3 separate regions of the Homo sapiens genome follow, and all the other regions are linked to region 3. Evidence: fine-mapped expression QTL. A gene starts in region 3. Each other region holds a variant in brackets. All regions are shown on one strand. Distances are between the middles of the regions.

Region 1 (8,173 bases), 24 kb after region 3:
TCCCTCCTGAAGGGACAGAGGCTGCAGCTACCTGGGAGGCTGAGGCAGGAGGACCACCTGAGCCAGAAGGTCAAGGCTGCACTGCACCATGATCGTGCACTGCACTCCAGCCTGGGCGACAGAGCAAGACCTTGTCTAAAAAAAAAAAAAAACCAAAATGTCACGCGCAGTGGCTCACGCCTGCAATCCCAGCATTTTGGGAGGCCGAGGCGGGCAGATTACAAGGTCAGGAAATCGAGACCATCCTGGTTAACACGGTGAAACCCCGTCTCTACTACAAAATACAAAAAATTTGCCGGGCGTGGTGGCGGGCACCTGTTGTTCCAGCTACTCGGGAGGCTGAGGCAGGAGAATGGCGTGAACCTGGGAGGCGGAGTTTGCAGTGAGGTGAGATCACACCACTGGACTCCAGCCTGGGTGACAGAGCGAGACTCCGTCTCAAAAAAAAAAAAAAAAAATCCCCAAAGACAGTACCTGGACTAAAAAAGAAAAAAGAAAATTACTTGCAAACCTCATGACCAATTGCTCCTAACCTCCCCTAGGCCACCTTGCCAAAGGCCCCAGGGTGCCCTGTAGAGCCTCCCCGAGCAGGATCCCATCACGTGCGGCTCCCCTGCCTTGCACACATTAGAAGTGTTCAGGCCGCTTCCCCCAGGTGGACCCGTCTGGCATCTCCTCCAGATCAGGTTCTGGTTTTGCACATCTGGCAGGAATGCCACCGAGGGCAGGTGTTCTGAGCCCCGAGCCGCCCTGCCTGGTGATGTTCGCTGTGGTCACCTGGATGAGGTGTGTCTGCAGGTTTCGCTACCATAAAGCCCCATTTCTGGGTGTGAGGGGTTGGTCACCTGCCAGGAGAGACTTGAGAACATGTGGGTCTCTTGCCACAGGCCGTCTCACCCCTGCTCCCCCTCTGTCCCCTGTGTCGCCTGCCCCTGCCTGGTTCCCTACCAGGCGCATCTGTCCTGGTTCCTGCTCAGCCATAGCAGGGCAGGGCCCATTGGTCCTCCCATCATCTCCTTAATCCCTCCCCCTATTTACAGACATCACAGCCCTTTCCAGTCTCCAGCAAAGGACTTTTTCTGGTCTTTTTATATTATTTTTATTTTTAATTTTATTTTACTGTATTTTTTTGAGACAGAGTCTCACTCTATCACCCAGGCTGCAGTGCAGTGGTGTGATCTCAGCTCACTGCGGCCTCGACCTCCCAGGTTCAAGCAGTTCTCCTGCCTTAGGCTCCTGAGTAGCTGAGACTACAGGCGCTCACCACCGTGCCTGGCAAATTTTTTGTATTTTTGGTAGAGACAGGGTTCACCGTGTTGGTCAGGCTGATCTCAAACTCCCGACCTCAGGTGATCCACCCACCTTGGCCTCCCAAAGTGCTGGGATTACAGGCATGAGCCACCACTCCCGGTCTGGTTTTTTGGTCGTTTTAAATTGTGGGCGTGGTGAGCACACTTTACTATTTCAGCCATTTTGAAGCCACAGCTCGGTGGCATGAAGCACGTTCACGTTGCTGTGCAGCTGTCACCTGCGTCCACCTCCCGAAGATTTCCACCTTCCCAAACGGAAACGCTGCCCCGTGAAACACGGATGCCCCGCCCCGCCCCTGGGCAGCCCCGCCCCTCCCCTGGGCACCCCCACTTCGCTTGCTGTCCCCATGGCTCTGAGTGTTCCAGGGACCCCATGTCAGTGGGACAGACAGGATCTGCCCCTCTGTGCCTGGCTCGTGTCACTCAGCGGAAGGTCCTCGGGGCTCATACACGCGGTGGCACGTGGCAGGATTTCCTTCCTGGCTGAGGCTGAGCGGCATTCCATGGCACGGACGGACTGCACCTCGTTCGCCTGCTCACTTGGGTTTCCTCTACTCTGGGCTCCTGTGAAGGACGCTGCTATGAGCGTGAGTGTGCAAACGTCTCTCCAAGACCCTGCTTTCGGTTCTTTTGGATTTATACCCAGAAGCGGGAATGCTGGATCACGTGGTAATTCTATTTTTGACGTTTTGGGGAGCCTATGTTCTGTCTCCCGCAGCGGCTGCACAATTTCATACTCCCTCCCCGGCAGCGCCCGGCTCTGCCGTCCCCATATCCTCCCGACACAGGTGACTTTCCACGTTCTTGACAGTGGGGGCGAGGGGGCGTCTCATTGTGGTTTTGAGGGCGTTTCTAGTGACGTTGACCATCTTCAAGTGCTCAATGCCATCTATATTTCTTGGGAGAAAAGTGTATTTAACGCAGGGCACGGTGGCTCACACCTGTAATCCCAGCACTTTGGGAGGCCAGGGCGGGCAAATCACCTGAGGTCAGGAGTTCGAGACCAGCCTGGCCAACATGGTGAAACCCCGTCTCTACTAAAAATACAAAAATTAGCTGGGTGTGGTGGTGGGCGCCTGTAATCCCAGCTACGCGGGAGGCTGAGGCATGAGAATCGCTTGAACCCAGGGGCGGAGGTTGCAGTGAACCGAGATCAAGTCACTGCACTCCAGCCTGGGTGACACAGCAAGACTCCGTCTCAAAAAATAATGATCATAATAATAATAGGATGGCATGTCGTGGGCCTCGGTTTGGCCCGAGTTGTTGTTTCCATCGGTAAAGGGGTGGCCGGCAGCGTCCACAGGCTGGATGGGATGGCCCGGACTGGGCACAGTAGGTGCTCACTAAGTATCCATGTGGCCCCTGTGATGTGGGGTGATTGCAGTGTGGCCGCTGTCCCATCAAGCCCAGGTGAGGGGCCAGGGCAAGGGCGGCTGACACAGGAGAAGGAAAGGCAGGAGCCTCCTGCCCTTCGGGGTGGGGCCGAGCCCCGGCCCACAGCTGTTTCTCTCGCCCCCAGGAGACAGGTACTGGGTGTTCAAGGACAATAACGTAGAGGAAGGATACCCGCGCCCCGTCTCCGACTTCAGCCTCCCGCCTGGCGGCATCGACGCTGCCTTCTCCTGGGCCCACAATGACAGGACTTATTTCTTTAAGGACCAGCTGTACTGGCGCTACGATGACCACACGAGGCACATGGACCCCGGCTACCCCGCCCAGAGCCCCCTGTGGAGGGGTGTCCCCAGCACGCTGGACGACGCCATGCGCTGGTCCGACGGTGAGTGCCAGCTGGGGGGACGGGCCATGCGGCCTTGGTTTCCCCACCAGGAGAGGGGCATCACTACAGGGCAGCCAAGAGGTTCCCTGAAAGGAGGACGGCCCCGGTCGGTGTGGGCTCTGAGGGTCCCAGCCCCTCGCCTGGAGCTGCCGACCCTGCAGGCGTCCCCGAGTCGCTCCCCGAAGGCCTGGCCCACGAGCTGCCCTTGTTCTCCCCGCCCTCAGCACTCCCTCGCCCCTGCTGCTCCCCCAGCCACGCTCCTGCCCCAGGGCCTTGGCACTGGCCATGCCTCGTCTGGGCACACTTTCCTGAGATGTCCACACAGCCCCTCCCTCGCCGGCCCCAGCCCTGCCAAACGCCCTCCTGGGCATCACCCCTGCCACGTCCCACAGTGTAGAAGAAACCTCCCCACAGGGTCAGCTCCAGGGACGGCAGCATCCTCTGTTTTGTTTTCAACGCTGCATCCTTGTCACCTGGAACAGCCCTGCACAGAGTGGGCCCTCAATAAATATCCAGTAAGGGAAAGAGACTCTGAGGGTCTCCTGGTCCATCCCCTGCCCCAGCAGGCTCCTCTGGAGCTTCCCAGGCCTGTGACCATGCCTGCAGAGCTGCCCACAGCTGAGCAGATGCTGACCCCATCTCAGATATTATCTGGGCACCCCCTGCCATCTAGCACGAGCCGCCCCCCACCAGCCGTCTGGTCTGACCCCCCACTGCAGTCTTGTGCAAGCCCCCTGCTGTCTGGCCCGACTCGAGCCCCTTCCGCTGCAGCCCTCCCTGAGCCCAACGCTCCCTCCTCGCTGTCCGGCTCGAGCCCCTCCTGCTGCAGCCCTCCCCTGAGCTCAGCTCTCCCTCCTCTTCTCAGGTGCCTCCTACTTCTTCCGTGGCCAGGAGTACTGGAAAGTGCTGGATGGCGAGCTGGAGGTGGCACCCGGGTACCCACAGTCCACGGCCCGGGACTGGCTGGTGTGTGGAGACTCACAGGCCGATGGATCTGTGGCTGCGGGCGTGGACGCGGCAGAGGGGCCCCGCGCCCCTCCAGGACAACATGACCAGAGCCGCTCGGAGGACGGTTACGAGGTCTGCTCATGCACCTCTGGGGCATCCTCTCCCCCGGGGGCCCCAGGCCCACTGGTGGCTGCCACCATGCTGCTGCTGCTGCCGCCACTGTCACCAGGCGCCCTGTGGACAGCGGCCCAGGCCCTGACGCTATGACACACAGCGCGAGCCCATGAGAGGACAGAGGCGGTGGGACAGCCTGGCCACAGAGGGCAAGGACTGTGCCGGAGTCCCTGGGGGAGGTGCTGGCGCGGGATGAGGACGGGCCACCCTGGCACCGGAAGGCCAGCAGAGGGCACTGTCCGCCAGGGCTGGGCAGGCTCAGGTGGCAAGGACGGAGCTGTCCCCTAGTGAGGGACTGTGTTGACTGACGAGCCGAGGGGTGGCCGCTCCAGAAGGGTGCCCAGTCAGGCCGCACCGCCGCCAGCCTCCTCCGGCCCTGGAGGGAGCATCTCGGGCTGGGGGCCCACCCCTCTCTGTGCCGGCGCCACCAACCCCACCCACACTGCTGCCTGGTGCTCCCGCCGGCCCACAGGGCCTCCGTCCCCAGGTCCCCAGTGGGGCAGCCCTCCCCACAGACGAGCCCCCCACATGGTGCCGCGGCACGTCCCCCCTGTGACGCGTTCCAGACCAACATGACCTCTCCCTGCTTTCTAGCGGCTCGGCTGGGCTCCCTGGTGCTCCAGGGCCATGGGAGTGGGTACCCTCGGGCCTCAAGGGGCTTGACCCTGACCAGGGGCCCACGCACCTGCACTTGGGGTGGGGGCTTCCCA[G/A]GAGGTCTCGGCAGTCGCATTCCTCCTTGTTCATCAGCCCGTCCCGCGCTGTCTCTTCCAGTCCTCGTGCCCCGAGGAGTCCCCACGCCCCTGTCACAGATGGGAGAGTTGAGGCCCAGCGGGGGATGAGCCTCAGTGCTACAGGCAGGGGCATCACGGGCGGGCGGGGCGCCAGCTGGCCCAGTGAGATCTGAGTGTGGGAGGTGCCCGAGGAAAGGCATCAGTTGTTGGGTGAGCCACTTGGGACGCTGTCTGCCCCGCAGCACTAGACCATGATGCCCGGCCGAGCACCGGGACCTGGGTGCGCCCAAGAGGGAGGGTAGGTGCTCCCTGCGCAAGAGGGAGGGAGGGTGCTCCCTGCAAGGGGCTGATTCTAGCTCCAGCCACTCTGTCACTTGCTCCCTTTGCTCCCAGCCTCCAGATCCACAGCGGAGTCCCTCAGCCTGCCCCCACTCTGGCCGGCGAGTGACGCGTCTGTCCTGCAGTACCCTCTTGTTCAGAGGGTGCAGCCGATGCCACTCTGCAGGGCCCAGTCCTCCCGCTGGTGCACAGTCCTCTGGTCTCTGCGGCACAGACGCACCCCGGGCCACAGGTTCGGGGCCTCAGGCTCTGGCTCACCAGCATCTGCCCTGGGCTGTGGAGGGCCCGGGTGCCCCCTCAAACGTGACTCAGTGAGGATGAGGAGGTGGCCGTTGGACTGTGGGGGATTCACTCCCACATAGCAGGAAGTTCCTGACCACAGGCCCAGCATAGGGAGCGGCTGGGGCCACCCAGGGTGCAGATGAGGCTTCCTGGCACCCAGGAGCCAAAGCCCACAGCCCCCTTGTCCCATCCCAGGGATGGCACCCATCCCAGGATGAGGCTGCCAGGGCCGGGCAGGCAGGCCCCAGGCCAGGCCTCATGGAGCCGGGCCACCTCCCCGTGAAGAGAGGCCACATCCTCATGGAGTCCAGCCGTGTCCTCTGTCCCCCGCCTGTTCACCATCTGCTCCCTGGAGCAGGAGGAGTCCCTGCCTGTCAGACCAGTCTGTGGAAAGACCGACCTCCCTCCTGTCTGTCGGGGACACTGGCTCTGCCCTGCACCAAGTGGTGTTTCCTCATCACGCTTTGTTGCCCAGCAGCCTGTGGGGTGAATTCCCCCGTGCAGCTGGCCCAGCCCCGTGGTCCCCACGTCCTGGGTCGTGCCCCAGTGCAAAGCCGGCTGTGGGCCTTGTCTGCTGAGTCGGGCTCTCACGTTGGCAGGGCTCACTGCGGTTTTGAAGTCCAAACTCTCCGTCATAAGCCTCTTCTGCCGGTCCTATCTCTGGTGAAGAGGTGAACCGTAGGCGGGGCAGGGGGGCTGCTCTGAACTTGCCTCTCCATGCTGCAGCCCACCTCCCTCTGGCAGTGGGGTGGCCGTGCTGGGTCCTGGGGCAGGGCCTGGAGCCCCGCCAGCCCATGACGCATTTCATGAGCCCCCACCTTTTGATATGCACATGCAGCTGAGGCTACCCTGACCCCACATTCAAAGTCGGAAATCCCCAAAACCCAAGACCTTTTGAGCACTGATGGGCTCGGGGTGCACACAGAACATTTGGGATTTCACTTTTTTTTTTTTTTTTTTTTTTTTTGAGACAGAGCCTGTCGCCCAGGCTGGAGTGCAGTGGTGAGATCTCAGCTCACTGCAACCTCCGCCACCCAGATTCAAGTGATTCTCCTGCCTCAGCCTCCCGAGTAGCTGGGATTACAGGCAGGCACCACCACGCCTGGCTAATTTTTGTATTTTTAGTAAAGACAGGGTTTCAGCATGTTGGTCAGGCTGGTCTCGAACTCCTGACCTCAGGTGATCCACCCGCCTCAGCCTCCCTGAGGTGAGGCTAGGATTACAGGCATGAGCCAACACACCTGGCCAAGTGGCAGTATTTGAAAAAAGAAAAGCAGAGAAAAATGCTCAACCTGTAAGTATAATGCAAATATAGTGTCCAAACTCCAAACAATCTGAGCTCCAAAACACTTTTCTGGTCCTGCGCGTCTCGGATGAGGAACACGCGGGCAGGGCGTGTTGTTTTGTGGAAAGGATCTCATGTTCATAGAAAGCTGCACCCGCAGCATGAGAGTCCTCTGCATCCTTTGGGAGGCGCTGACCACCCTGAGCTCGCTTCTGTGTCTCCTGGAACGCAGGTGTCCTCCCAAGGTCAGAGTTGGGAAAGACACGCAGCCAGTGGATCTCAGATCAGAGGATGCTGCAGGGACAGACCTCACCCAGGGCAGCCTTCTTTGGCCCGGCACAGCTCCCGGGCCTTCCCCGACCCCTGTGACCTCGCACCTATGAGGGCTGCCGGCCCGTCCTTCTGTGGTCCATGCCCCCGGCCTGTCCGCCTGCACCTTCCTCGTGATGGGACCTCGGTTCTGTGTCTTCAGCAGGCAGTTTTCCATCTTCGCCTGAGTCACCATCTAAACACCTGGAGACTTCACGTGACGTTCTGGATTTTCAGAGTCACTGCTTATACCTCAGGCTGTGCTGGCCCAACTTGGAGAAGCTGTGCCCCCAGGCCCAGGAGGCAGGGCATCGCCAGCCCACAGCCACAGTCAAAACCCTCCGAAGGAGGTCAGAGGACCCACGCCACCCCAGTGAGGGGCAAGGACCTCTTCCCTTCTTCCTTCCACCCCAGGGAGGTCAGCCTGGAGGCCCAGGGTCTCTCTTGAGCCACACGGCCGGGCCAAGGCACTGGCTGCCCTTAGCGTGACCCAGGCTTTTGACCAAAAACACACAGCCCCATGGGTGCTATACAACGCCTCTGCATGGGAGACCTCCGAGGCCAGGACACACCCTCTCCAGCTCCCATGATACAGGAAGGGAAACTGAGGCACGGTGTCTTAGCTCAGCTTGCCGTGACAGGCTGCTGTAGACCATGCGGCTTCCACATGGGTGACCTCTGAGGCCAGGACACACCCTCTCCAGCTGCCGTGTTACAGGGAGGGAAACTGAGGCACGGTGTCTTAGCTCAGCTTGCCGTGACAGGCTGCTATAGACTGTGCGGCTTCCACACAGGCATTTGCTTTCCCACCAATCTGCAGGAGTCTGAGGTCAGGATGCCGGCAGGGTCAGGTTCTTAGAGGCCCGCTTCCTGGTTCAAAGCCAGCACCTTCTCACTGTGTCCTCACAAGCCCGAGAGAGAAAGTGCTGGTCCCTTCACCCCCTACCAGGGCACCAATCTCATTGTGGGGGCTCCGCCCTCACGACCTCATCTAACCCAAATCGCCTGCCAAAGGCCC
Region 2 (8,173 bases), 210 kb before region 3:
GACGCGGCCCCCCACCCCGAGAAGCCACATTAGAATCCGTGTTGGTCAGTCCATTTGAGCCGCTGAAACAAAACCACAGAATGGGTGGCTTAGAAACAACAGAAATTTATTTTTCACCATTCTAGAGGCTGGCAGAGTCAGCATCTGATGAGGACCACTTCCTGGTTCATGGACGACGCCTTCTGACTACATTGTTGCATGGTGGAAGGGATTGGGGGCTTCCTAGGGTCCCTTTTGGAAGGGCACTAACCCCAGAAAAAGCGCTCAGTCCTCATAATCTCATCACCTCCCAGAGTTCCCACCTCCTGACACCATCACCTTGGGGGTTAGCATTTCCACAGATGCGTCTGGGGAGATACAAGCATTCAGACCATAGCTGGGTCCCTGGTGACAGCCGCCTGGGGCCTGCTGGGTTTGAACCTCAGGGACAAGCTGGGCCCTGGACCCTCTGTAACCCAGGTTCAACGGCTCACCACTCAAAAGCCAGACATGAGGGCCAAGGGGTGGTGGGAGGGAAAGCAGCTTTCATCGGAAAGCCAACAAGCCAAGAAGATGAACTGGTGTTCTAAAGCACCATCTTAAATGTTAAAATGTGCCACGGGGAGCTGGGAAACGTGACACGGGAGCCACGCGGGGTGCAGGGCCTGTGTGTCTCACCCCAGTGGCTGTCTTGGGTGGACGGAGGTCTGGATGGTGCCATGTTGACTTGGGCCCGGTGGTGGTGGACGTTGGTCATGACTTCCCCTAAGCAGCAGAGTCCACAATGGGGGCTCAGTGCCCGGTTTGTTTTGAGATCAGCCTCTGCAATTTCTTAAGCAAGAATCTAATTAGATGAGTGTGCATTGCTACAGGGGAGTGTCCGGAGAGGGAAGGAATCGGAGTGAGAGGAGAGGGAGGGAAGAAAAAGAGAGTATGTGATTTTTAAAACTGAGGTCCCTGGTGTTAAATTAAGTTTAGCCTAAAGCTGCCTCCTTACATATTTTAAGTTCAGCCTAAAGGTTTCTCTGTACATAGAGAACTGAAACCTAAGTGGATGTGTAAACAGACTACCCTACTCTCGTGCCAGCCACTGAGGTCTGCAAATGCCCAGCTGCAGCCAACCCGGCGGGCTCCGTCCCAGCCGCAGCCGACCCGGCGGGCTCCGTCCCAGCTGTAGCCGACCCGGTGGGTTCTGTCCCAGCTGCAGCCGACCCAGCGTGTTCTGTCCTCACTCCCTTTTCTGTGGTCATTTTCCTTTTTCTCTGTCCATAAATCTTCCACCATGTGGCTGCCTTGGAGCCTCTGAGCCTACTCTGGCTCTGGACATGACCCAATTCGCAACTTGTTCTTTGCTCAATTAAACTTTGTTAAATTTAATTTGTCTAAGGTTTTTCTTTTGACACTAGTTACACTTCCATGCAGAGAGGCTGCCTGTGTTACCTCCAGACCAAGTGAGAACATCACCCTCCAGCAGCAGCAGGCCTCTCATCCATGGGTGACTTGGTCTGGGAAGCCATGTGTTCACTGCTGACCTCTGTCAACCAAAAATAAAATTCTAAGGCCCCCAACCAACTAATGGACCCCCCATCTCAGCCACAGGCATTCCAAAGTAAACCTAAAACAGTGATTCAGGCCCTGATGGGAAGGGGGTTCAGACATGCTTCATGATACCCTCCTCCCTTGGCATTTCTGGCGCAACTGGCCAGCGTTAACATTAAAACAGATTTTTAAGACTGACCAAAGAGACTCTTTGTAGCAATAAGATACCAAACTCCAGGCCGGGTGCGGTGGCTCACGCCTGTAATCCCAGCACTTTGGGGGGCCGAGGCAGGCAGATCACAAGGTCAGGAGATCTCTACTAAAAATACAAAAAAATTAGCCAGGCATGGTGGCCGGTGCCTGTAATCCCAGCTACTTGGGAGGCTGAGGCAGGAGAATTGTTTGAACTCAGGAGGCAGAGCTTGTAGTGAGCCAAGATCATGCCACCCACTCCAGCCTGGGCAACAGAGTGAGACTCCGTCTCAAAAAAAAAAAAAAAAAAAAGATACCAAATTCCAACCCGAATCTAGTAAATTGTCACATGAGAGATAGCAGGCCCTGAAAGAAATCTAAGTATTTTACCCAAAAATCTGTTTATTTATTTCTGGAATGGCCCTGCACAGCTGTCTCTTGTGGGGGAAATTTGCATTCTGTAGAGAATCCCGTGCCCTTTCCAGGTCTTTTCCAGAGTCTAGCATCTTTTAAAGGTCTGAATAGGAAACATTTGCCACCTTTTTCCTCTAAGGGTGGTCATCTGAGAGACTTATCTACGTAATAAGAACCTTGGTCTCCACAGCCTCTCATCTCAACCCATACATTCCTCTCTATTGATTCCAAGTCCTTCAATAATAACCTCACTCTTTCAACCAAGTGCCAATCAGAAAATCTTTGAACCCATCTATGACCTACTATAGCCGCCCCCAACCCTGCTTCCAGTTGTCCCACCTTTCAGACTAAACCAATGTACACCTCACATGTATTAATTGATGTCTTATGTCTACCTAAAACGTATAAAACCAAGCTGCAACCCAGCCTCCTCGGGTACATGTTCTCAGGACCTCCTGAGGCTGTGTCATAGGTCATGGTCCTCACATTTGGCCCAGAATACATCTCTTCAAATATTTTAGAGTTTGGCATTTCTCATCAACACCTCTGAGCCTCCTAGAAGAAGCCGCCCCGTGCACTCCTGAGGTCTGAGCTGTTGCCTGAGCCCACAGGCAGAGCCATCTGCACCAGCAGAGAACTGCAGAGAATGCTGGAGGAATTTAAAATATGTAACCCCAAAATACATTTGCTTGACATAATTTGAAACAGCTGCCACAGGCCCCTGTAGAGAATCTCCATTAATGCAGCCAGGCCCCCTCTACTTTCTGTACCTTTCCCAGATTTGGGAGAGATTGAGAGTCTGACACTGTTAAGAGTCTGAAAAGAAACACTTCCCGTCTATCCTCTCCAAGGGAGGCTTCACCTCCATAACAAGGCTGCCTGTGCTAGCCAAGCCTCTTCCTTTCTCCCGCTGTTTCCCTGTCTTGCCACTGAGCCTGACTTTGCAGCATGACCTGTTTCTGGCAGTGCTTAGAGTCCTCAGCCTTCCTTGCTGTGCCTCAGGATGGTGTGGAAGCTTCCGTACCTCATCATTGGGTTGGATCTTCATTCTGAAGGCTCCCAGGCACACATGGTCAGTAAATAAATGTGTGTGCTTTTCTCCTCTTACTCAATCTGCCTCATGTCACTGACTTTCCAGTGAACGATTAGGGAACCAAGAGCCTGTGGTCCCACAACACCCCTTTGTCATAAGTGTGGGCTCTGCAAGCCACCCCCAGGCTTCCCCAGATGTCAGGTGAATTAAATGAAGCTCATGGCGGCCCTTACTCCCAACGCTGTCCTCAGAGAGGGCGTCTGGGGCCTGCAGACCCACTGACAGCTGAGAGGGCACGCTGTGCTCCTGGCCACCTTCTCAGCCCCCTCCAAAGCCCACCTGGCCTCACTCTTGTATGTCAGCATCTCCCTGCCTGGCAAATGAGTGAAGTCACTGATAAAACAGTTTCATTAATAATTGTCCATTTCCCAGGAGCTTTTTTTTAAATATATTTTTCCTCCCTGAAAGCCTTAAGATAAATGGCACGTCGACTGTGCCGGCTCCCGCTCCAGGGCTCTTTGTTAGGAGCGGGGCTGTTTATCAACCGCCAGTCACCCCAGCCCGGCACAGCAGGGAACAGCGGCTTCTCCCCACCATGTGCTCTGTCCAGGCTGCCCCCTTTCAGCTCAGAACGATGGAACGTGTGTTTCTGCCCCGCGTCAGTGTGGGCTCCGTTCACCAGAAACCCCCCAGGTTCACAGTAGCCGGGAAACAGACCTTGGTATAGCTCTCATGCTACTCATGGGTGCATAACTGGAGTCATAAACAACTCCTTTGTGAGGAGACACGGACCCATCCAGGGCCCTCATGGCTGCTGAACCTGCATCGGCCCAAACCAAACTCGTGATTCCTCCAAAACTTCTGTCCTTCTGCCTTCCCTCCAGAGAAGGTGGCGCCAACCTCCTCTGTGGCTCAAGCCTCCCAAACAGAAGTCACAAGGCCCCGTTCCGCTCCTGGATCCCGCCCTGTCCACCTCCCAGCCAGGAGTCATGAGGCCCGGTCCTGCTCCTGGATCCCACCCTGTCCGCCTCCCAGGACACAGGCTCCTCAGATGTGTCCTGCCCTTCTTGTTCCTCTGTTTCTCATGCCGGGCATGGCACGTGGCATGCAGTAGGTACTCAGTAAATACATTTTAGTGAAATGATGAATCCCCTAGGTTAGAAACTCGTCTAAGTTGTGAGGAGCTTTATTGGAAATCCCATAGGAAGGAGCTCGCTCTGTCCTGGGGGAAGGGGAGGTCTCCACATGGAGCCAGGCACCAGCCCCCTTGCACAGTGGCTCAAATAAACCTTCAGGGCCCTGGAGGCTCCCACTGCCAAGACCCTGGAGTGTCTTCCAGCCTCTGGCTGATGTCCTGCTCGTCCACCTGCGTACCCGGCTCCTTCCATGGAAAGCTCC[C/T]GAATGCACGGCCTGGAGTGGGCTTTCTCCTGACCAGCGAGCCACTTCCTTCGTCGGACAGAGCACCATGCGGAGTGGAGATTAGAGTGGAGGCAGGCAGGAGAGGGCTGAGGCTGCAGTGTGGTCTCTGGCTGCACCCCGGGACTGTCGGCTGAGGACCACAGCAGTCCCGCTTGCCTGAGAGCTCCGAGTATGTCCTGGGAATGGAGGCGACTGGGGCGGGAAGAGGAGAGTTTGTTTGGGAGCCTCATAGCTTTAAAGACACTGTTGACATCCTATGGTGTTGGCTACGTGGAGGAGTCGGGTCCGAGACTGTGAGGATGAGGGGGTCCAAGTGCCATGTCCTGGGAGCAGCTACCTGGGGGCTCACGGGATCCTTTGCAGGGGGCCGGGGCCTCCCCTTACTTTCTCGCCAGCACCGATGCCCTTGTTTCTGATATCAGCCCAGGGATCCCCCCGTGCCCCTGGTCTCTGAAGTTCAGGTAGGGCTCAGGCTACCCTGTGTACCCTCACACCATGGCAGGCACGTGTTCCAGGACAGGCAGTCGGAGTTACAGTGGCCAGGGCGAGGGAGCCACCCTCCAGGCACGCAGGGAGCCAGGCTTGTCCTGTGCACCCTCCCAGCTCTGGGTCCTGTCCCTCAGGGCCTCTGATTTGCTGGGCCGTTTGTGCTGCTGTGACTATTTGGTGGGCCCAAGTATGCTGGAGAAATTCTGGATGCCATCCATGACTAATAACCGGGCAGTGCACTTGCAGGATGCAGCAGCTCCTGGTGCCACGGCCGCCTCCCACACCAGCCCCTGGGGAGTGGAGAGGCCTCCGGGTGTTGCTTCTGCACGTGCTGTTCATGGACATGTGGCCTGGAAAGCAATTCAGGTTTGCTCTTGGTGAGCCTCGGAAGCTCCAGGCGGCCGCTAGAGTCTCAGACGTCGCCACCCACAGACCTCTTGGGTTTTGCCATCTTGGCATAAACAGCCTCGGTCCCGACCCCTGCCCTTTATTAAGCCCTCTTCAGTTAACCCGTCGTGTCCCTTCTGACTGCTGGGGGACTCCCTCAGATACAAGCTGTCTCCTCCACTGGAAGGTGAATGCCGTGAGCGCGGGGCCCTGGTTCAGCACCAGAGACAGCGCTGGCACCTCAAGAGACTCAGTGACATTTGCTGAATGAGTGAATGGACAAACGATGCTTCAACTGCGCAGATGCCATCCGCTCTTTCAGGAGCCTGGTCTTCCCACTTTAGCGACCATCTGAATCACGTGGGAGGCTGCAGAGACGCAAGAACCTGGGTCTCTCACACTCCATATTCTGATCCCAGGGTCTGGGCTGGGACCTAGGAATTTGCATTTTTACCTAGGCTCTCATACAGGCTTCTAATCTGATAGATAAAGTCTTCAGGAAGTCAGCCTCTGATAGACAAGTGCTATCCTCGGAAAACAGCATACACAAAGCTGAAAATAATTTCCCTTTCTGCCTCCTCCAAGGCTCAAGGCTTCTGAGAAACTGCTCGAAATTTTCTCAAAATGCATGCTCTATTTTCCACTCTCCTCCCCTCTCTGCATTCCATTCAGCCATCCCAAGAGGACCCACATGAGTCGCTGCTCCTTCGTTTCCTTATTCTGGAAACTCCTAAGACATCCTCTCTACACTGATGATTTTGCAGAGCGAAGGAGAAACAATAAACATCTTCCAGAAAGAATTTCTCAGTGACTGCAAACAAGGAGTGAGATTTGCATTCGGGGGGGCTGTTTGCCCTCAATGTGGGGAGTCGGCAGTGTCAGAACTTGGCAGTGACCCTGAAGACGTGGACAGGAGCAGATGGGATGTTTGACTTCACCTCCCTTTTGCTCCCCGATGCATTTCAGTGCAGGCCTGGTGTGCTGCACCAGCTGCGTGACAGAGGAGGAGACGAGGAGGAGGTTCTTGGGCACAGGAGGAGCGGGGCTGGGGTGAAAGCAGCCAGCCAAATGCAGGGGGTGCACTCAGCGGGGGAACCCAAAGTGTGTGGAGAAGAAAACAAAGTGCTCTCCAGGACCAGCCCTGCCCACGGCCTCCTGGCCCTCAGGGGGACTCACAGAACTGGCTCAACAGGTGCACACAGATGTGCACACACATGGGCACACAATGCATATACACATATGCATGCACACACAGAGACCCACGCACGCAGACCCAGACATACATACATGAATGCATATGTGCAGACACGTGCATGCACACAGACACACACACACACACACACGCACACAGTACTGGAATCACCACAACCAACATGCCACCTGCTTAATCCTGTTCGAAAGGACTTTCCTTGGCCTCAAGTTTTTCCACACCTGCCACACTCTGCAAACCTCCAAGAAGCCAGACCCCCCACAATTGGACAATGTCTGGTTCCTCACAGGAAGCTGCCATCACACATCTGGACAGCAGTGGGGCTCACCTTCTGGGAAAGCCTGCTCTCCTGCTGCAGGGGGAGGACTCACCAGACCCCAGAGTGGGAGTGTAGGATCGTGAATGCTGCAGAGCCCACATAGTCTGATATCCCGGCGGAGCAGGATCTGCTTCCTGGCTGGTGCAGCCACTGCCCAGCTCTCCTCTGCCCCTGCTCCACATGTGTGTCATCTGGGCTGTCTTGGAGGCAAGTGACAGAAAGGGGGCTTCACCAACGCCCTCACCTGAGCACCCTAAGAAGGGGCTGGCAGCATCAGGACAGGCCCAGGCTCAACCCTGCCCTCAGACAGAAAGCAGCTCAGCGGTTCCCCAGCTCAGACTCCGCAGCCAAACTCAATGTTCAAGACCCAGCTCTCCCACTTTCAAGCAGTGTGGCTTTGGTGGCATTGCTTAACCTTTCTGGGTCCCGCTCTCCCCGTCTGTGAAACGATCATGGTGAGGTGCCGTGGGGCTCTGATGAGGTTGCCCACGCCAGTACACACACAGCAGGACTTTGTGGATGGCTGGCACCGCCCGGGCGTCACCCTCACCCGGCCCTGGCCGTCAGCTCACCATCCTCATCTCAGGCCCCCTCCTGTGCGGCGGCAGAGACAGGGCTGCACGCGGCTTCCATGGGCCCTGGGCCCTTTTGCATTCGTGGGCTCCTTCCTCCATAAAATCACCTTTAAGCTTCTATTTTACAACTGGTACAAAGATGAATAGGTTAATATTTCTTTGACCTAAGAGCTCATATTTTCTTCTAATTTTAAAAGAAATTAAAACATTTTTGTAGCCCTGGAAATCCTCAGGGCTCTTGCACTTTGCCTGTGTCCCTGATGGGGGAAGGCGGCCTGGAAATGGCCCTCAGAGAGCTCCTCTTAACTGAGCAACTGCGAGGCAAAGCCTCCCTTCCCCAGGGGTTTCAGAAAAAGTCCCGGGCACATTCTCATTGGACCAGCTTGGGTCACATGGCCATGCCTGAGCCAATCCCAGGACCACAGTATGAAATATGCTGATTGGGAGGCGTGGCTTCCCACCTGTGAATCACGTGCACCAAGTAGGGGTGACCTGGCAGAGAAATACAGAGACAGGCAGGTGAGTCCTGGACGGACCCTAGGGACATCTGTTGTCCCCCTCAGGACCACATAGCAGAGCATGATACGGTGCCTGTCCACAGCCCAGGGACCCTTTTC
Region 3 (8,173 bases):
CAGTGGGCGACAGGGTGAGCCCCTTCAAAAGGGCTCGTGTGCACCTGAGGGCTGCAGAGAATAATTATGCTCCAGGCGTCTGCTAATGCATGGGTCATGGTTGCGCTGGCTGTGGGAGGAAGACAGGTGCCTGGGAGATGATGCAAAACTCACCCGTTCTGCTGTGGCCACCAATTTACTACGTATACGTACCCTACACCACCACAACGTACACCGTAAATGCACACGATAACATTTATCTTTTAAAAAGATACGTGGGGCGGGGCGCAGTGGCTCACGCCTGTAATCCCAACACTTTGGGAGGCCAAGGCGGGTGGATCACCTGAGGTCAGGAGTTCGAGACCAGCCTGACCAACGTGGAGAAACTCCGTCTCTACTAAAAATACAAAATTAGCTGGGCGTGGTGGCGCATTCCTGTAATCCCAGCTACTCGGGAGGCTGAGGCAGGAGAATCGCTTGAACCAAGGAGGCGGAGACTGCAGTGAGCTGAGATTGCACCACTGCACTCCAGCCTGGGCGACAGAGTGAGACTCCATCTCAAAAATAATTAATTAATTAATTAATTAACATTTAAAAGTCAACAACGAGGGGCTGAGGACCTCCATTGGTGGTGTTCGTGGCAGCAGGGAAGCCAGGTACCAGTGCATGAGGACTTGGAACCAGGACTTCGAAGACGCTGGGCTGAGGAGAAGACCAACCAGGCTGGGGCTGGCATAGGGTCCAGGGAGGGCCCATCTCTGAAATGGGTGACATAAGCCAAACACAGTGTTTTGTGCTCAGGCCTCTCTGCACTGGGCTTCCTGTCACTTACACCCAAAGAGCCTTGAATGGAATTCACCCTGAGCGATACAACCAGGGGCACAGCACCCCCTCCTCACTGCCTGACACGAGGGTCCTGGGTCCCCACAGGAGCAACCGTGGGCAGGGCCACCTGGGAGCTGCCCGTCAGAGTGTCTGCACCCGGATGGCTACAGACCAGGGCTGGGCACCTCTGGCTTTCCTACAACCTTCATGTCACAGCTAGGAGCCCCAAGCGTGTGTCCCACAGAGCTCCGACAATAGTGCCCGCCTGTCATTTGCCCATCTTCATGGTCCACAGACAACGCTACCTGAGTCTCCAGCCAGGGGCTGGAAATGAGCTGATGGGCCCAGCCCAGGTTTAATGCTCCAGGCATGGGGCAGCATCACTAAACCCTGGGCTGACAGGGACAAAGGTGGCTTTTCTAAAGGAAATTGCAGGGTAAGGGAGATGGATAGCAGGCAAGGCTGGATCAGGGGGCTCAGAAGATGTGATGCAACGTGTGGATGTGCACGTGGCAAACATAAATACAAGATACAGTTATTGTGGGTCTTTTCTGCTTTCTGCTTTTCTTGCTTCTCATAAATTGTTTAATTTGCTCAACAGTATGTCTGAGGCCGGGCACAGTGACTCACACCTGTAATCCCAGCACTTTGGGAGGCCGAGTTGAGTGGATCACCTGAAGTCAGGTGTGGCATTTGAGACCAGCCTGGCCAACGTGGTGAAACCCTGTCTCTACTAAAAATATAAAAAGTAGCTGGGCGTGGGGGCAGGTGCCTGTAATCCCAGCTACTCGGGAGGCTGAGGCAGGAGAATGGCTTGAATCTGGGAGGCAGAGATTGTAGTGAGCCGAGATCGCACCACTGCACTCCAGCCTGGGTGACAGAGCAAAACTCCGTCTTAAAAAAGAAAAAAATCCAGCAATATGTCTGAGTGGCCCTGCGGATACTCTTGGATCGAATCCCTTCTTCCTGGCTTCTGTCTTTGGGTCATAGCCCAGTGTTGTCAGCCCAGGGCAGCCACCAGCTTACACAGCAGCTTTGTGGGTCTTGGAAAGGTGCCTGATTCCTCATGTGCTGTGGCCCCACGGTGAGGCCATGGATCCATAAACAGGGTGCAGGTGGGACTCCAGCCCCTACCCATGCCCTTGGCCACAGCCAGCAGGACACATGGCCCTGGATCAGCCAGTCGGCCATGGGTGGGCGCGTGGGCAGTTTCTGAATTCTTTCCTATTACAAATCCCGCTGCAACACCATGCTTGCATTAGCCTTCCCGTGCAAAGACCGGAGCGTTCCTCTACAGCAGACGCCAAGAATTCTGGCCGCAGAACATGTGCTTCTTGAATCGTAATAGCTGCTACCTGGTGGCCCTCCCGAGGGGCTGTACCAGGAGCCTGAGTGCCCACTCCCCACACCCTCCTCCACAGATGATAATACGTGGTTTTTCTTTTTCCTTCCTTCCTTCCTCCCTCCCCTCTTTCTCTTTCTCTTTCTCTTTTTTTTCTCTCTCTCTCTTTCTTTCTCTCTCTCTCTTTCTTTCTTTCTCTCTCTCTCTTTCTTTCTTTCTTTTTCGTGGCAGGGTCTCGCTCTGTCTCGCCGGAATTCCTGTGCTTAAGTGATCCTTCCACTTCAGCCTCCCAAGTAGCTGGGACCACAGGCACACACCACCATGCACAGCTATTTTTATATTTTTAGTAGAAACATGGGTTTCGCCATATTCGTCAGTCTGGTCTCAAACTCCTGAGCTCAAGCGATCCGCCTGCAATTCAGCCTCCCAAAGTGCTGGGATTACAGGTGTGAGCCACCGTGCCGTCATGATTTTTCAGCGTTGCAAAGCTGATGGGAGAAGAGCGATTTCTTGCGGGGCTTGGATCTCAGCGGCTTTCAGATGTCCGAATGGGGTGGCAGGCTTGAAGGGAACACAGCAGCCATGGTGCCAGGCAGCTGCTTTGAGGAAGGTCAAATTCCCGATGTCTAACCAAGCATCTCCAGTTCACCAGCCGCCACCAGGCCTTTCTGGGGAGAACAGTGGCCTGCCTGTAAGGCCCTTCTCACATTTGTACATCCCAAGCCACTGTCGCCCAAGCTCCATAAACAAGCCATCTCCCTTCAATGCCAGCAAGCCCCGCGGTGAAGCCCCTTGCCAGCACCGAGCTACAGCCCCTCAACAGCGTCCTGTTCCAAGTCTCAGATGTGTATGAGCCCCATGATGCAGTGGGGGCACTGGCCGCGTTCCCTCTTCTGAGTCCTCGACCCAGCTTTGCCTGCCATCCACCCTCCCTTCCTCTGACTTCAGCACCTCTGATTTCCTGTAGAGAATCCCTTCCAGCCCAGGGCTTCAGCTCACTTCCCTGCCCCTGGCCCCACGATCAGGTCCTGACCCAGAATCCAGAGAGAGGTGGCCTTGGGACCATTGGTTGAGAAAGAGTCTGTCTCTGGCTGGGCCTGCTGAGGGGGAAGGATGCACAGGAGCTGCCCTGGGCCGTCTTTGCCCCACACAGAGATGGACTGAGAGAAACCGCGTTCTGACGCTGTTGCTGTGAGACTTGGTCCAGCCCTGCCTGACTTTGGCACACGCTAGGACGCCACCGTTTCCTGAGCCCATACCCATACGCTTCCTTTCCTTGACTACAGCCGCTTTGGCTGGGTCTCTGCTCTGGAAACCAGGTTGTCCTGATGCACTTGGTCAAAATCCCGGATGAGGCCAGGTGCGGTGGCTCACGCCTGTAATCCCAGCACTTTGGGAGGCCAAGGCGGGCTGATCACCTGAAGTCAGGAGTTCAAGACCAGCCTGGCCAACATGGTGAAACCCCGTCTCTACTAAAAATACAAAAATTAGCTGGGCACGGTTGTGCACGCTTGAAATCCCATCTACTCAGGAGGCTGAGACAGGAGAATCATTTGAATTTAGGAAGCAGAAATTACAGTGAGCCAAGATCGTGCCACTGCACTCCAGCCTGGGCAACAGAGCAAAAAAAAAAAAAAGAAAGAAAGAAAAAACAATCCGGGATGTCCTGTGAAAGTCCCCACCTCCTACAGGTGATCCCATCAGTCCGAACCAAGGTCATCTGAAGCAGGTGTGGAATCACCCTGTTCAGACCGGGCCAGGGAGGCTCTGAGGGCAGCAGGGACAGGATGGGCCAGAGTACCCAGGGAAGCGGGGGGGGGGGGGGGGGGGTGGTTGGGGGGAGTCGGCCCTCACAGGAGGGGAGGGGCACCACTTCCCTGAGACCAGTTCTGGTAAAAGGGGCCGAGCCTCAGTTTCCCTGTCCGTAGAATGAGACCTCAGTCCTGACAGTACCAGCTGCGATTTGGGGTGGTGGAGCAGGAGGGCCTGGGAAGGAGGGGAAGCCATGCTGTCCAGCACGAGGAGAAGCTGAATAAAGGCAAGGGTTACCCTTGAACCTCACCCCCTGCCCTCTCCCAAGATCTCCCACTCGGTGGGCAGCCTGTACGCAACTTGCACGAGTTCAATCCACACAAGCGCCTGCTCGGGCTCTGACCCTGGCTCTGCCGCTTGCCCGCTCCAGGACCTCCCATAAGTTACTTCATTTCTTTGGGCCTCAGTTTCTTTGTCTGCGAAATGGAAATCATAGTTTTCATCTCATAAATGTTGTAAGTAAATGAAATTATTTATGTAACTCCTGGGCATGTGCCAGGCACACGCTGCGCTCCAACAAACATTACAAGTTAACATTCTCGCTCCCAGGCCCGCAGGGACCGCAGAGCCTCCGCCGAGGACCCCAGCCCCCCCAACACCCGCCCTCGCCCTCCAGTCCCCCGCGCCCCCCAAGCCCCACCCTCCCTCTCCCGCGGTCCGCGGGCTCCACCAAGCGCCCACCTGCTGCGCTGCGGCGGCGGCTCCGGGGCCTGAACCCGGGTCTGAACCCGGGCCTCGGCGCCGTGGGGGGTGGACCCGGGAGCGCGGCCGGAGAGGGGAGTCAGGGTCAGCTCCCCGCAGGCGCCCCGACCCCCGCCTCCGCGCCCATCCCGCGCGTCCCCGCCGCCCCAAGAGCGTCCTAAGACACCCGGGGAAACGCCTTCCCTGTGATGCCGCGGACCCAGTCCCGTCGCGGACACGGCGGGGCGGGCGGGGGTGGCAGCGTCCGAGGCGGCGCGGGCCCTTTAAGGCGGCCGGCCTCGTTAGCATACATTTGCATGGCCCCGCCCCGCCGCTTGAGGCTGCCGCGCGGGGCTCAGTCCGGCGGGGGCGCCGCGGAGAGCGGAGGGCGCCGGGCTGCGGAACGCGAAGCGGAGGGCGCGGGACCCTGCACGCCGCCCGCGGGCCCATGTGAGCGCCATGCGGCGCCGCGCAGCCCGGGGACCCGGCCCGCCGCCCCCAGGGCCCGGACTCTCGCGGCTGCCGCTGCCGCTGCTGCTGCTGCTGGCGCTGGGGACCCGCGGGGGCTGCGCCGCGCCCGCACCCGCGCCGCGCGCCGAGGACCTCAGCCTGGGAGTGGTGAGCGCGCGGGCGGGACGGGCGCGGAGCTCCTGGGCCGGAGCCGGGGGTCTCCGCGGGCCGGGTGGCGGGGACCGGGAAGACCCCAGCAGTGCACGTCGGCGTCGCGCGGGAGCCCTGGCGCCCTGGACCCATTTCCTGGGTGGGGAGACTGAGGCAGGGACGCGGGCTGAGCGACCGGGCGAGCGCACGCGAGTCCTGGGGAGGCGCCGGCTGCCGTCCCGGCTCCGTGCGCTGGGAGCGCGCCGCAGCCGCAGGAGCCCGTGGAGTTGTGAGGGGGTCGCCCACCCGGAGCCCGGGTCGCCGGCTTGCAGCAGCCCCGGAGCAGCCGGGCTGGGCGAGAGCAGGCATCGCGGCCGCCCCGAGCTCTGCGCGCTGCGTGCGTTCCGGGTGGGAGTGGCGGGGGCAGGAGCACGCACCCACAAAGCGAGGAAGGGCAGGGGCTACGGAGTGGGGGCACCCCGAAAGCCTTGAGCCCCCGAGTTTGCTCGGTTGAGGGTGTTGGGGGCACAGGGATGCTGGCCCCCAGCTCCCCACTGGACAAGGACCTGGCCCTCAGCCTCCTTCCCCTCCACCCCAGGTCGGCCAGGCTGGCCCTGCCTTGCCCTGGTACAGTGCTGAGCCGGGGGCGCGGGGAGAGCCTTCCTCACTCCACACCCAGTAGCTGTCCCCAGCTCAGCTTAGAAACCCTGCCTGGGGGCAGCGACGTGGCCTCTTCCTACAGCCCCCTCCCCTGTTCCGCAGCCGGGACTCGCGTCTCCTGTGGACCCGGAAGATTTAGAGCACACGTCGTGGGGTCAGCGCCCCCCCGCTGGGGCGGCCGGGTGAACTCCCGCTGGGTTCGTTGGTTCCTTCTGAGGCTCCTGCCCCACCGCTGCCTTCAATGGACTCCTACCCAGGGAGTCGGGCCAGGAGCCGAGGCCTCCCCGCCCCACACAAGTACTCGGCCTGGCCCTCGTCCGCGGACAGTCTCCCAGTGGGGTCCTGGCAGGGCCCCTCGCCCAGCGCAGTGGACATTCAGGAGCTCCAAAACCTTGGGGTCCAAGCAAGTCAGCGCAGGTGTATTTCAGGCAGTCGAGGCATATGGAGGGGCCACTTGGGTGGCACCCGCAGCCCCTGTGGTTGGCAGGACTTGGCCAGGGGGTCTGGATGGGAAGCCGATTTGGCCACCGTTTGCCCCAGGCCCCGAAGCCATCTGGGAGGGTGCTGGCCACTGTCCCTGCTGCCCGCGTCCAGGTGCCTGCAGGTCCCCACAGTGGCTTCCTTCCAGCCAGGCAGCCTGTGAACTTGGGGTGCCCCCCTCCACCTCCTCAAGACCCTTTTGTAGGTGCGGATCTCCCGGATCCCCCACTGAGAATCACGCCCTGGGGGCCTGGGGTCTCCAGCTGTGGAGGGAGGTGAACCCAGGCCCGCCTTCCAGGTCCGAGGGTGCCGCAGAAGGGGCCGGGGCAATGCCAGGGAAGGACTCAAGGTGGGGCCCACACACTCAGGAGGATGGACCCCCGGCCGAGCCATGTTGGCTGATCAGACCCAGTGCGGTTTGGAAGTTTCTCGCCACCCACCTGCCCCCCTGCCCGGAGAGAGTGGGTCAGGCGCCCTCCTCTCGGCTGGTACCTGCGCCTCGGTCTCTCCTGGCACCCCGGGGGTCACCCGCCCCGCGCCCTGCGACAGCACCGAGCGGAGGATGTGGCTCCCCAGCCTGGCCGGGGGCAGTGAGTGGGGCCCCGGTGTCCAGCCGGAGAGGGAGGACGCTGCGGGCAGCCCCCTGCCTGGAGCCCCGCTCCGTGTCGGGCCCGGCCTGGCGTGGAGCCTCCGTCCTGCCGCGGCTTCCTGCTCACACTGGCGGTGCGGGGCGTCCTCTGCTGGCCCTCGGGGAACCGCGGGCCGAGCTCAGGCCCAGGGGCGGGCGGCTTCCCCGCGGGGAGGGACGAGGAGGCCGGGATCTGGGCGGGAGCGGGGACTCCTCCTCCGCCCGCTCGCCGGAGGCGCTCCCGGAGTGGACTGATATTCAGGTCTGGGCGCCAGGGACGAGAAGTGCTCCTTTGTCTCAGAGCTGCAGACAGAGCTGCACCCAGCAGGGCTGGAGCCGGGGCTGGAGGGGAGGGCCCGCCCCGGAGCGCCCCCCGTATGCACGTGAACAAGGCCGGGATTCAGGCTGCTGGGCTGCGGAGCCGGGCTTTCAGGAGCCCCCGGCGGGGACAAAAGAGCGCACTGTCCCCCCGGGGGTCCTTGGCGGGGCTGCTTGTCCTTGTGGGCCTGAGTTTTTTGTCTTTCTGTGTTTTGAGTACGACATACAGCGAGCAGCCCAGGGTCTCCACAGGCGTCCGCCTCCCTCCCGCCCCTGGTTCCTGGGCACGGATGGGACGCGGCTCTCCGTGCCTTATTTTTGCACGGTGGCACCGTGGGCCGTGCGATTGCAGCTTCGCACGCTATCTGGAGTGTCTGTGCCGGAGCCGCCCGTCTATTCACCTGGTTAAGCCAGGCTCGGCCTGCAGCCTGCTTCTGGCCAGAACTTCCCGGACTCGCGGCGAGAGTGTCTCGGGATCTGGGTCCTGGGTGGCAGTTGTGTGGTGGCAGATTTTGACAAGCTGCTCTAAAGTTTCTGCTCCATTTCTCCTCTCGGCAGCACAGCCTGTGGCTGTCATCACCGCGCCCACGGCACAGTGGCAGCTCCCTTGATCTTCTGTAGGAGGTGGGGTGGGGCGGGGCAGGTGGGGGGTACTGCTGAGGTTGTGGGATGCTGGGCCAGATGGTGCCAGGTGGCAGCCGCCCTCCATGTCCTGGCTTCTGCCGGTGGCCTCTGGGTTCCTGGCCCTCAGGACCTTGTCATCGCCCTGGCTGGGGCCAGGGTGTCCCCTCTCACCCTGCAGCTGCTCCCAGAGCTTCAGGCGAGCACCCCCAGCCAAAACCAAGACA

The links.
Region 1: its variant is fine-mapped to the expression of MMP17 in whole blood (INTERVAL, PIP above 0.99).
Region 2: its variant is fine-mapped to the expression of MMP17 in whole blood (INTERVAL, PIP 0.96).

Annotation. Positions count from the first base shown.
Region 1 is chr12:131,846,973-131,855,145 of GRCh38, forward strand. MMP17 (matrix metallopeptidase 17) reads left to right here. Exons shown (of 10, transcript NM_016155.7): 9 at 2,830-3,087; 10 at 3,953-4,799. The coding sequence ends at 4,302. Among named protein-coding and RNA genes, the nearest start is that of MMP17, 23 kb to the left of the region's middle. RefSeq lists an enhancer at 4,475-4,644. The variant G/A (reference allele first, on the strand shown) is at 4,920.
Region 2 is chr12:131,612,781-131,620,953 of GRCh38, forward strand. No RefSeq gene overlaps it. Among named protein-coding and RNA genes, the nearest start is that of LINC02414, 31 kb to the right of the region's middle. RefSeq lists enhancers at 4,805-5,305, 5,306-5,806. The variant C/T (reference allele first, on the strand shown) is at 4,556.
Region 3 is chr12:131,823,397-131,831,569 of GRCh38, forward strand. It overlaps MMP17 (matrix metallopeptidase 17), which reads left to right and starts at 4,997. Exons shown (of 10, transcript NM_016155.7): 1 at 4,997-5,257. The coding sequence starts at 5,099. RefSeq lists silencers at 4,862-4,991, 6,981-7,240 and an enhancer at 6,724-7,333.